2 separate regions of the Homo sapiens genome follow, and region 2 is linked to region 1. Evidence: fine-mapped expression QTL. A gene starts in region 1. The other region holds a variant in brackets. All regions are shown on one strand. Distances are from middle to middle. Region 1 holds the start of PROCA1 (protein interacting with cyclin A1). Region 2 overlaps PIGS (phosphatidylinositol glycan anchor biosynthesis class S).

What was found. PIP is the estimated chance that this variant, and not a neighbour inherited with it, causes the effect. A credible set is the group of variants that fine-mapping cannot tell apart.
Region 2: its variant is the best candidate, but not a certain one, in a credible set for the expression of PROCA1 in sigmoid colon (GTEx, PIP 0.53).

Annotation. Positions count from the first base shown.
Region 1 is chr17:28,708,789-28,714,156 of GRCh38, forward strand. It overlaps PROCA1 (protein interacting with cyclin A1), which reads right to left and starts at 3,100. Exons shown (of 5, transcript NM_001366301.1): 1 at 2,782-3,100. The coding sequence starts at 2,872. RefSeq lists enhancers at 1,765-2,540, 2,541-3,316, 3,875-3,954 and a silencer at 2,335-2,834.
Region 2 is chr17:28,558,176-28,563,543 of GRCh38, forward strand. PIGS (phosphatidylinositol glycan anchor biosynthesis class S) reads right to left here. Exons shown (of 12, transcript NM_033198.4): 5 at 5,256-5,347; 6 at 3,247-3,454; 7 at 1,874-2,016; 8 at 301-415. Among named protein-coding and RNA genes, the nearest start is that of UNC119, 8.2 kb to the left of the region's middle. The variant T/A (reference allele first, on the strand shown) is at 2,795.

The sequences.
Region 1 (5,368 bases):
AGTTCGAGACCAGCCTGGGCAACATGGCAAAACCCCATCTCTACAAAAAATACAAAAATTAGCTGGCTTAGTGGTGCACACCTGTAGTCCCAGCTACTCAGGAGGCTGAGGTGGGAGGATTACCTGAGCCCAGGGAGATCGAGGCCGCAGTGAGCCGTGATCACGCCACTGCATTCCAGCCTGGGCAACAGAGTGAGACCCTGTCTCAACTAAAATATATGCCTTTGATTCTAAATCCCCACCACAGCCCCATTCTATGGATGAGAACACAGAAACTCAGAGAGGATAAGTAATTTGTCCAAACATACATTGTTAATAGACTGTAGAAGTAGGATTCAAACCCAGGTCTTCCTGGTTCCATAGCCTATGCTCTTTCAGCCCTGTCTACTTACTGTTGGCTGGGGACACACCCCTGTAAACAAAGGTCATTCTGTATGTGAAGCTCCACAGCCAAGCCTTTTTTTTTGTTTTGTTTTGTTTTTCTTTTGAGAGAGTCTGGCTGTGTCGCCCAGGCTGGAGTGCAGTGGCGGGATCTTGGCTCACTGCAAGCTCCGCCTCCCGGGTTCACGCCATTCTCCTGCCTCAGCCTCCCGAGGAGCTGGGACTACAGACGCCCACCACCATGCCCGGCTAATTTTATGTATTTTTAGTAGAGACGGGGTTTCACCGTGTTAGCCAGGATGGTCTTGATCTCCTGACCTCGTGATCCGCCCGCCTCAGCCTCCCAAAGTGCTGGGATTACAGGCGTGAGCCACCGCACCCGGCCCATAGCCAAGCCTTAAAACCACATTCTGCTTGAGTGAGCCGGCGAGGCAGAGGTTGCAGTGAGCTGAGAGAGCCACAGCACTCCAGCCTGGGCGACAGAGTGAGATTCTGTCTTATAAAATAAATCACGTTCAGCTCCATATGCAAAACCTGTCCTACCAGGCCGGGTGCAGTGGCTCATGCCTGTAATCTCAGAATTTTGAGAGGCCGAGGTGGGCGGATCACTTGAGGTCCGGAGTTTGAGACCAGCATGGTCAACATGGTGAAATCCCTTCTCTAATAAAAATCCAAAAATCGGCCAGGCATGGTGGCACATACCTGTAGTCCCAGCTGCTCTGGAGGCCAAGGCATGAGAATCGCTTGAACCCCAGAAGTGTAGGTTGCAGTGAGCCGATATCGTGCTACTGCACTCCAGTGTGGGCAGCAGAGTGAGACGGCGGGAAGGACAGGTGTTTTTTTGAGGCACAGTCACTTCCTACTGCACCTGCTTTTCAGCTCCAACACTACCAATTCCTCACCCTCTGGTTTTACTCAATCTGGACTCCACAGCCTCCCTTATCCACCCTGGACCCTAAAGTCATGCCGCTGGGACCTCAGCCAGGGTGAGGAACCAAAACTCCTCTGCCTTGCTGTTTCAGGAGCCACCATGAAAGAGACACACATGGCCAGGCGCGGTGGCTCATGCCTGTAATCCCAGTACTTTGGGAGGCCGAGGTGGGCGGATCACGAGGTCAGGAGTTCAAGACCAGCCTGACCAACATGGTGAAACCCCGTCTCTACTAAAAATAAAAAAAAATAAAAAAAATAGCTGGGCGTGGTGGCGCGCGCCTGTAATCCCAGCTACTCAGGAGGCTGAGGCAGGAGAATTGTTTGAACCCGGGAGGTGGAGTTTGCAGTGAGCCGATATTGCGCCACTGCACTCCAGCCTGGGCGACAGAGCGAGATTCCATCTCAAAAAAAAAAAAAAAAAAAAAAAGCACACATGCAGGGTCAGAGCCTGTTTACTCTCCACTCACTAGCTCCCCCAGAGCTCGGACACCCATCAGCTCTGTTTGTGAAGGAGACGAGGGGAGGAAGGACAAAGGGGGAGACGAATTTAGTAACTCTCTTCAGAGCTGAGAAAAGCAATCTGCTCTTTAGTTCCAGAGGACAGGAGGAGACCTCTGACCAGCAGCAGTCCAGAGTTCCTGCAGCAGGAGTGACTGACAACACACACAATGAATGAGGAGGGTGATAGGGTGAAAGAAAGTGGGAGGCTTATGGCGTCTTTCCCCGTGAGGCGTTAATCGGCGCACAAAGGCCTAACTCAAAACTCACAAGTTATGCTCATCTGTACAGAATCCTCCCCGTCCTGCGGGGCCGAGGAGCTCTCCTCGACCTCGAGGCACTGGGGGTGGGCACCAGAGCAGCCGAAAGGAGTAGGGTGGGAAGGGAGGGAAGGAGTAGGGCGGGAAGGGAGGGAAGAAACTAGGAGAGGAAGGAGGGAAGAGGAGGAAGCAAGGGAGGGGCAGTGCGCCCGCGTCTCCTTGGAAATGCCTCTCTGGCCTCGCCGCCGCGGAGGTAATTGTGATGCCACGGGTGGAACCCTCAGTCTCCTTGGTCCACCCTCAGGGTCGATGGAACCGCCCGCTCCCGCCCCGGCGTCCGGGTGGGCGCTGGTCCACGGGCTCCAGCCAAGGCCGGCGCTTCAAGGGCAGCGGCCTGCGCCCGGTGCCACCCAGTCCGATAGCCGAGCGTTCCAGCTCTGGCTGGAACCAGACTTCCCGCCCATCCCGCGGGCGACCCAGCAGGGCCTCAGGACCCCAGTCCTCAATCATTGGCCCGCGGCTCGACGCGAGCCCGCCCCCGGCCCTAGCTCCGCCCCGGCCCTAGCTCCGCCCCGGCCCAGCACTGGGCCCCGCCTCTCTCGTTGGTTTGCCCGTCTCCCTCGTCGGTTTGCCGGCTTCCCGCGTGCGCCGCTCGGGGTCTGCGAGCCGGGCCGCGCCCTCTGCCCAGCCCCTGCCCCGCCCCTCTTACCGCGGCATCTGCTCTCATCCCACGAGCGGGCCTTGGGCTCGGTCTTTTCCTTAGTCCATCTTTCAATTGTGAGCGTCGTCCTGACCCACATCGCTCTCCGCCCAGGTCTTCGTCTCTACAGGACTCTTGCGTGAAGTCCAACCCTGAGCCTCAGCCCGGCCGAGCCCTCGGCCCAGCCGTGAACTCCAGTCTCGGCTTCGCCCCCGCCTAGCCCCTAACCCCGCCTCATGCTGGCGCAGCCCCCGCCGGCCTCCCCAGCCCGGCTCCAGGCTGCGTAGTCTTCCCAGCTGGGTCTCAGCGTCAGCCGCGTTCTTCATCCGGGGCCTCCGGCGCCTCCCAGGCCCCTCTTTATCTCAGACCTTAACCTTACAGGCCCAGCTCTCACCACCCATCTCTGGTTCCAGCTTGCAGTCCAAACCCCAGATTTTCACCCTGCCTCCAGATCGTAGCCCCAATTCTTAGTGTTACAACGAGCCTTGCCCCCAGCCCCATTCTTAGCCCCGCCCCGGCCATTCTCTAAACCGCACACTCCCGTCCCGCTCCCCGCCCCACCGACCCTTGGGAACCCAGCCGCAGCCCCGCCTCTGCCCGCTGGCGAGAGAGCGAACCCCATCTCTACAAAAAATACAAAAATTAGCTAGTTTAGTGGTGCGCACTTGTAGTCCCAGCTACTCGGGAGGCTGAGATGGGAGGATCCCCTGAGCCCAGGGAGGTCCTGGCGTCGCCATTTCCCCTCCACCTTCCGGGCTTCGAGGTCCCTCCGCCTCTGGTGGAGCCCGGGCTTCCCCTTTCTCCGCCCACAGGCCTCTCCGAAGACCTAACTCCGGGCTGAGGACCTGATGTCGGCTCCCAGCCCCTGCGCCACCCCGCAGCGTTCCCGCCCCTGGCCCCCAGGGGACACCCTATTCTAGAGACAATACTGCCCAATAGAGAGTCGTAAGCTTATCCTGATAGACAATCTGGAGAACAGGGCAGGCTGCATTCATAGGAACCTCATCCCAGTGACACCCCTCACGCCCTCAGGTACAACATACACACTCTGCGCATGCATATATCACACACACACAGAATATACTCACCACACACAGACTAATACAACATGCACACGGAACACAGAACTCCCACACCCGGTGCAGCACAAACACCACACCTGGACTGTGGTGCTGGCTTCACACACATCTGTTAACAGGCAAGGCAAGGGTGAGGAGCCCAGTGCTGCGAGGGAACAGAAATGGAAAAAACAATCACAGGAGAGTGTGAAAAGAAGTTATGGCCATATCGACGACATTCCATGCACCACACCCCTCCATTTCTCTTGGCACCAGCTTCCAAAGCCAGGATGAAGAGGAGGAGAAAGGATGGGGTCCACACCTTGTTTTCTCCACCATCATCCAGGGGCTCTGCTGCTGCTACTATTGCTCTGCCTGATCCCCACCTTCACTTTCCTCCAGACCCAAGTCCGGAGTGGGTAGGGCTGCTGCCCAGACCCTCCTTCCCGTGGTAGCTCTAGAGAGTCTAGGAACTGCGAGGGAGGGGAAGCCAGGAGAAGGGAAGTGTGCAGAAAAACCAACCATCCTGGTGAGAATGGAACCAGGAATGGAACAGACAGAGCACTTGGCAACTGGGAGCCAGAATCTGCCTTCTAACTTGGACACCCCCTTAGCCTCCCAGGATGACACGAGGCCATAAGTCCTCCTTTGTTGACCCAGATGTCTGAGGTGCTTCCAGCTACTCTGGAACTCTGGGTTAGATGTCAACAGGGAGCCAGGGTCTTGGTCACCTTTCTTTCTTATAAAAGTTAATGGCATAAACAACCAAAAAAACAAACAAAAAAAAAAAAGAAAGAAAAGTTAATGGTTATAACTCCTGAGTTCAAGCAATTCTCCTGCCTCATCCTCCCAAGTAGCTGGAGTTACAGGCATGCACCACCACGCCCGGCTAATTTTTGTATTTTATTTTATTTATTTTTTTTTATGAGACAGAGTCTCGCTCTGTCACCCAGGCTGGAGTGCAGTGGTGCCATCTCGGCTCACTGCAAGCTCCGCCTGCCAGGTTCAGGCCATTCTCCTGCCTCAGCCTCCCAAGTAGCTGGGACTACAGGCACCAGCCACCACGCCTGGCTAATTTTTTGCATTTTTAGTTTCACCATGTTAGCCAGGATGGTCTCTATCTCCTGACCTCGTGATCCGCCCGCCTCAGCCTCCCAAAGTGCTGGGATTACAGGCATGAGCCACCGCGCCCGGCCTAATTTTTGGATTTTAATGGTGACGCGGGTTTCACCATGTTGGCCAGGCTGGTCTCGAACTCCTGAATCCAAGTGATCTGCCTGCCTTGGCCTCCCAAAGTGCTGAGATTACAGGCACGAGCCACCGCACCCTGCCTGGAAAAGTACTTCTTAAAGGGAAGGCAAGAAAAGGGTGAAAAAAAGAAAAAGATTCTCCAGTGGTGAAAATTTGGGTATAAGCACCAAGTAGGAGGACACGTGTGGGGAAAGGATCAGGGGAAAGGGCTCTCAAAGCCAGCCATTCAGACTTCACCCAGTGAGGGCCCAGTGCAGCCCCCAAACTGATGTTTCAGCTCCCAGCCT
Region 2 (5,368 bases), 150 kb before region 1:
CATACCTATAGTTCTAGCTACTCGAGAGGCTGAGGTGGGAAGACCACTTGAGTCCAGGAGTTGGAGGCTGCAGTGAGCTATGACTGTGCCACTGCACTTTAGACTGGGCAACAGAGCAAGGCCTTGTCTCAAAAAAAGAAAAAAAGGAGCCTCAATCTCCACAGTCTCCTCGGACCAACCCAACCTGGGAACCATCACTGTATATAATCCACCTCCAACTCCTGTCCCCTACCCAGCTGAGCCGTCAGGGTCCCTCCCTAGCCTGGCAGAAAAGAAAGACCCTCATCCTTAGGTGCTCACCCAGCCGGGACTCCACTGGGTTGATGACATGGGGGAGGCTGTGCATGTCCAAATAGTAGCTGGAGGAAGCTGAGTCAAAGCGGGGATTCACCCCCAACATTGCATAGTAAAGAATCTGTAGAGCAAACAGGGAGTGGTTACTTTGTTTAGATTTATATTCTACTTTCTCCCAAAAAAGATTTGAGGTGCCTTAAAAAAGACACAATCAGGACAAGGCAACATATAAGAGACAAAATCAGGGCTGAGAGAAAATAATTGCAGAAGAAAATAGCAAAGCCAAGGGTAAACTGAATAAACTAAATACGTGCTTTAAAAATCACGTATTTTACCAGGTTTCCTAACAGTCTACACAAAGAGAGAAACAAAGAACAGCATAATTCAGTGTCTACAAGATCAAATCAAGCCAGTTATTCAGAAGCAATTACTCCCACTAGGAAGACCTGATAAAAATTTCTCCCACGTGTTTTCCCTACAAGGAGACAGCGTGATACAGAAAGCTACATTCTTCACATCTTTTTTTTTTGAGATGGAGTCTCACTCTGTTGCCAGGCTGGAGTGCAGTGGCACAATCTTGGCTCACTGCAAACTCCACCTCCCGGGTTCAAGCAATTCTCCTGCCTCAGCCTCCCGAGTAGCTGGGACTAAAGGTACGCGCCACCATGCCCAGCTAATTTTTATCTTTGTAGAGATGGGGTTTCACCATGTTGGCCAGGATGGTCTTGATCTCCTAACCTCGTGATCCGCCTGCCTCAGCCTCCCAAAGTGCTGGGATTACAGGCGTGAGCCGCCGCACCTGGCCCTTCACATCTTTATTGTTACTACAATAACAAATTTCAGGAAGCATTTTTCTAAAAACTAAATTCCTTAAGAATGGCTCTGCTGGGCTCCATCACTCACACCTGTAATCCCAGCACTTTGGGAGGCCAAGGCAGGTGGATCACGAGGTCAAAAGATCGAGACCATCCTGGCCAACGTGGTGAAACCCCATCTCTACTAAAATACAAAAATCAGCTGGGCAAAGATCAAGACCATCCTGGCCAATGTGGTGAAAACCCGTCTCTACTAAAATACAAAAATCAGCTGGGCATGGTGGCACGCACCTGTAATCCCAGCTACTCAGGAGGCTGAGTCAGGAGAATCGCTTGAACCTGGGAGGCGGAGGTTGCAGTGAGCTGGGATCACACCACTGCACTCCAGCCTGGTAATAGAACAAGACTCTGTCTCAAAAAAAAAAAAAAAAAAAAAAAGATGGGTCATGGCATTAACATCTAAGCACAATTGGTGAGTACAGGTCTAGAGGGAGCTATAGGAAGGTGGTTTGTTAACAAGCACTGACAAACTCTCTCAATAGGATGCCAAGGAAGTAAAGACACCAGAATCTGCCCTCAATGGATGGATGGACACAGACAAGGGCACACACGCACCCCCAGTACCCACCCTTATGACACTCACATACATATACACACAGGAAATTCCTAGCAAATCAGCAAGCTCTAAGAGATGGAGGAACAGACTGCACTTGTAAATATGTATAGACATTGAAAAGGACTCCTCAACTTGCTCCCGGTCTCACCTGAGAGTCCACAGAGAAGTTGCCAGCGGCACCGAGGGCATTCAGGAAAGGTTGCACATAGCGCCGGACAGCCCCCTCAATGTCCCAGTAGACATCATGGGACTTGGGGTCTGGGTTGAGTAAACTGAAGGTGATCTCATAGCCTACAGAAACAGGAGTCAGGGAAGTCAGAGGCTCTTGTGGATCAAAGAAGAGGGGCAGCCTGTACTCCCAGCTGAGCTGAACTTGTTTCTCCTCTGGAATGGGGCTGCTTTCCATCATGGAACCAAAAGGAGGACAAAACTGGGATGAGGAACACTGAGTAAGAAAAAGCTGCCGGGCGCTGTGGCTCATGTCTGTAATCCCAGCACTTTGGGAGACTGAGGCAGACGGATCACTTGAGGCCAGCACTTCAAGACCAGCCTGGCCATCATGGAGAAACCCCATCTCTACTGAAAATACAAATATCGGCCGGGTGTGGTGGCTCACGCTGTAATCCCAGCACTTTGGGAGGCCGAGGCAGGCAGATCATTTGAGGTTGGGATTTCAAGACCAGCCTGGTCAACATGGTGAAACCCCGTCTCTACTAAAAATACAAAAATTAGCTAGGCATGGTGGTGGGCGCCTGTAATCCCAACTATTCAGGAGGCTGGGGCAGGGGAATCGCTTGAACCTGGGATGCGGAGGTTGCAGTGAGACAAGATCACGTCACTGCACTCCAGCCTGGACGACAGGAGGCTCCGTCTCAAAAAAAAATAAAATAAAAATAAAAATACAAGAATTAGCCAGACATGGTGGCATGCACCTGTAATCCTACTCAGGAAACTGAGGAGTGAGAATCACTTGAACGTGGGAAGCAGAGGTTGTGGTGAGCCAAGATCACGCCACTGCACTCCAGTCTGGGCAACAGAGCAAGACTCTGTCTCAAAAAATAAAATAAAA[T/A]AAATAGGCCAGGTGTGGTGGCTCACACTTGTAATCCCAGCACTTTGGGAAGCCGAGGCGGGCAGATCACGAGGTCAGGAGATCGAGACCATCCTGGCTAACACAGTGAAACCCCGTCTCTACTAAAAATACAAAAAAATTAGCCAGGAGTGGTGGCGGGCACCTGTGGTCCCAGCTACTTGGGAGGCTGAGGCAGGAGAATGGCGTGAACCCGGGAGGCGGAGCTTGCAGTGAGCCGAGATAGTGCCACTGCACTCAGCCCAGGCAACAGAGTGAGACTCCGTCTCAAAATAAATAACTAAAAAAAATAATAATAATAATAATAACATAAAATAAATAAGAAAAAAATTGAGACTAGAGAAGAAAGGAGAAAGAAGTTGGCATGCAGATTTCCCTCCTGCCCCATGTAATTCATTTCCTCTCCCTTCATGTGGCAGAGCCTGGTGCCCTACCCAAGCTGGACTTGAGAGGCCGCCTCTTCTCAGCGCTCCACTTGTCCTCTGGAAGGTGGTCAGCCAGAGCAGCAGCAAGCACATCCTCAGTCAAAGACATGGCCTGGGCCACCTGGACTATGCGGCGGCCAATGATGTTAAAGGCCTCCCGGTGCATTATCCCCCGCACCACTGCTGTCCTCTTGGGCCCAATGTAGCTCATCATGTCCTGTGGGGGTGAGCAAGAGACAGAATGCCCATGGCTCAGAAAAGAAAGCCAAAAAGCACCCTGGCTCCTACTGTTCCGAATCTGCCCCTTTGCCAATGACCAACAGGTTTGCACCTCTCTTGAGATTCATGAGCTATTAACTCAGCATTTCTGAGCTATGAGTATATATTGAGTATTTTCATTTGTCTCCGTTCTCTTCTTTTTCCCAGTTGACATGGGTCCAGGCAGCATCTAACTCTTCAGGGGCTGGTAAAATGGTGAAATGGAAACTCAGAGATGGCATGCTGAGCAAGAAAAGCGGAATAAACAGACAACTGGAGAGTCTGATATAAAAATGGCACATGGCAAAGAAACAAGTATTCATAATAGCATTATTTCTAACAGTAAAACCTAGAAATAATCCAAATGTCCATTAGCAATAGAATGGGTAAATTATGTTTATGTTTATACAATGATACATAGATTCAACTACATAATTATGGATGATTCTCTCACCAGGCTCTGCCACATGAAGGGAATAAAATAAAAGTGGCAGAGGAACATGTGTTATAAGCCACCATTTATATAAATTCAAAAATGTAAAATTAAATACATTGTTTACAGAGATACAGCATATGTGATCAAACTCTAAGGAAAAGCAAGAAAATTACAAACACAAAATCTGGTTGCCTTGGGCCAAAAGGGAATGGAGTATAACCATGGAAGTACACACCGTGCTACTGCACTGCAGTTTGTGAGCTGGGGGTGGGGATGGGGACGTTCATTAACATTTTCTTTAGTGCTTTTATAAAAATTAAATATTTGATTATAAATTTTCTTTTTGAGACAGAGTCTCACTCTGTCGCCCAGGCTGGAGTGCAGTGGCACTATCTTGGCTCATTGCAACCTCCACCTCCTGGGTTCAAGTGATTCTCCTGCCTCAGCCTCTCGAGTAGCTGGGACTACAGGCACCCACCACCACGCCCGGCTAATTTTTGTATTTTTAGTAGAAATGGGGTTTCACCATGTTGACCAGGCTGGTCTCAAACTCCTGACCTCAAGTGATCCGCCTGCCTCGGCCTCCCAAAGTGCTGGGATTACAGGCATGTGCCACCGCACCCGGCCGATTCTTGTATTGTTAGTAGAGATGGGGAGTGCAATGGCATGATATTAGCTCACTGCAACCTCCACCTCCCAGGCTCAAGCGCTCCCCCTGCCTCAGCCTCCAAAAGTAACAGGGACTACCACATCCAGCTAATTTTTTTTATTTTTTGTAGAGATGGGGTTTTGCCATGTTGCCCAGGCTGGTCTTGAACCCCTGAGTTCAAGCAAACTGCCCGCCTCGGCCTCCCAAAGTGCTGGGATTACAGTGTGAGCCACCAGACCCAGCCAGCATTCTTTATTAAAAATATGTGGAGGACGGGTGCGGTGGCTCACGCCTGTAATCTCAGCACTCTGGGGGGCCAAGGCAGGTAGATCACAAGGTCAGGAGTTCGAGACCAGCCTGACCAACGTGGTGAAACCCCATTTCTACTAAAAATACATTACATGGCACATGCCTGTAATCCCAGGTATTCAGGAGGTTGAGGCAGGAGAATCACTTGAACCCGGGAGGCGGAGGCTGCAGTGAGCCGAGATCCCGCCACTGTACTCCAGCCTAGGCAACAGAGCAAGACTCCGTCTCAAAAAAAAAAAAATTTTTTTTTGGAGAGTTTTCTGTAGCAAATGGAAGAAATGGGTAGCAATGATGCAAGAAGGAGGTGACCCAGGAGTCCACGAGCTGAAGGGATAAGGCAAAGTCGCAGCCTCTCTGTTACCTTACCTGGGGAAGAAGTGAGGAGTGTTCAGATATCACGTACACAGTCAGGGAGCCCTCCGCTTGTTCCTGAGGCTCATCTAACATGGCTTCTGCCTCTGGGGGCAAGAACAGGTGGT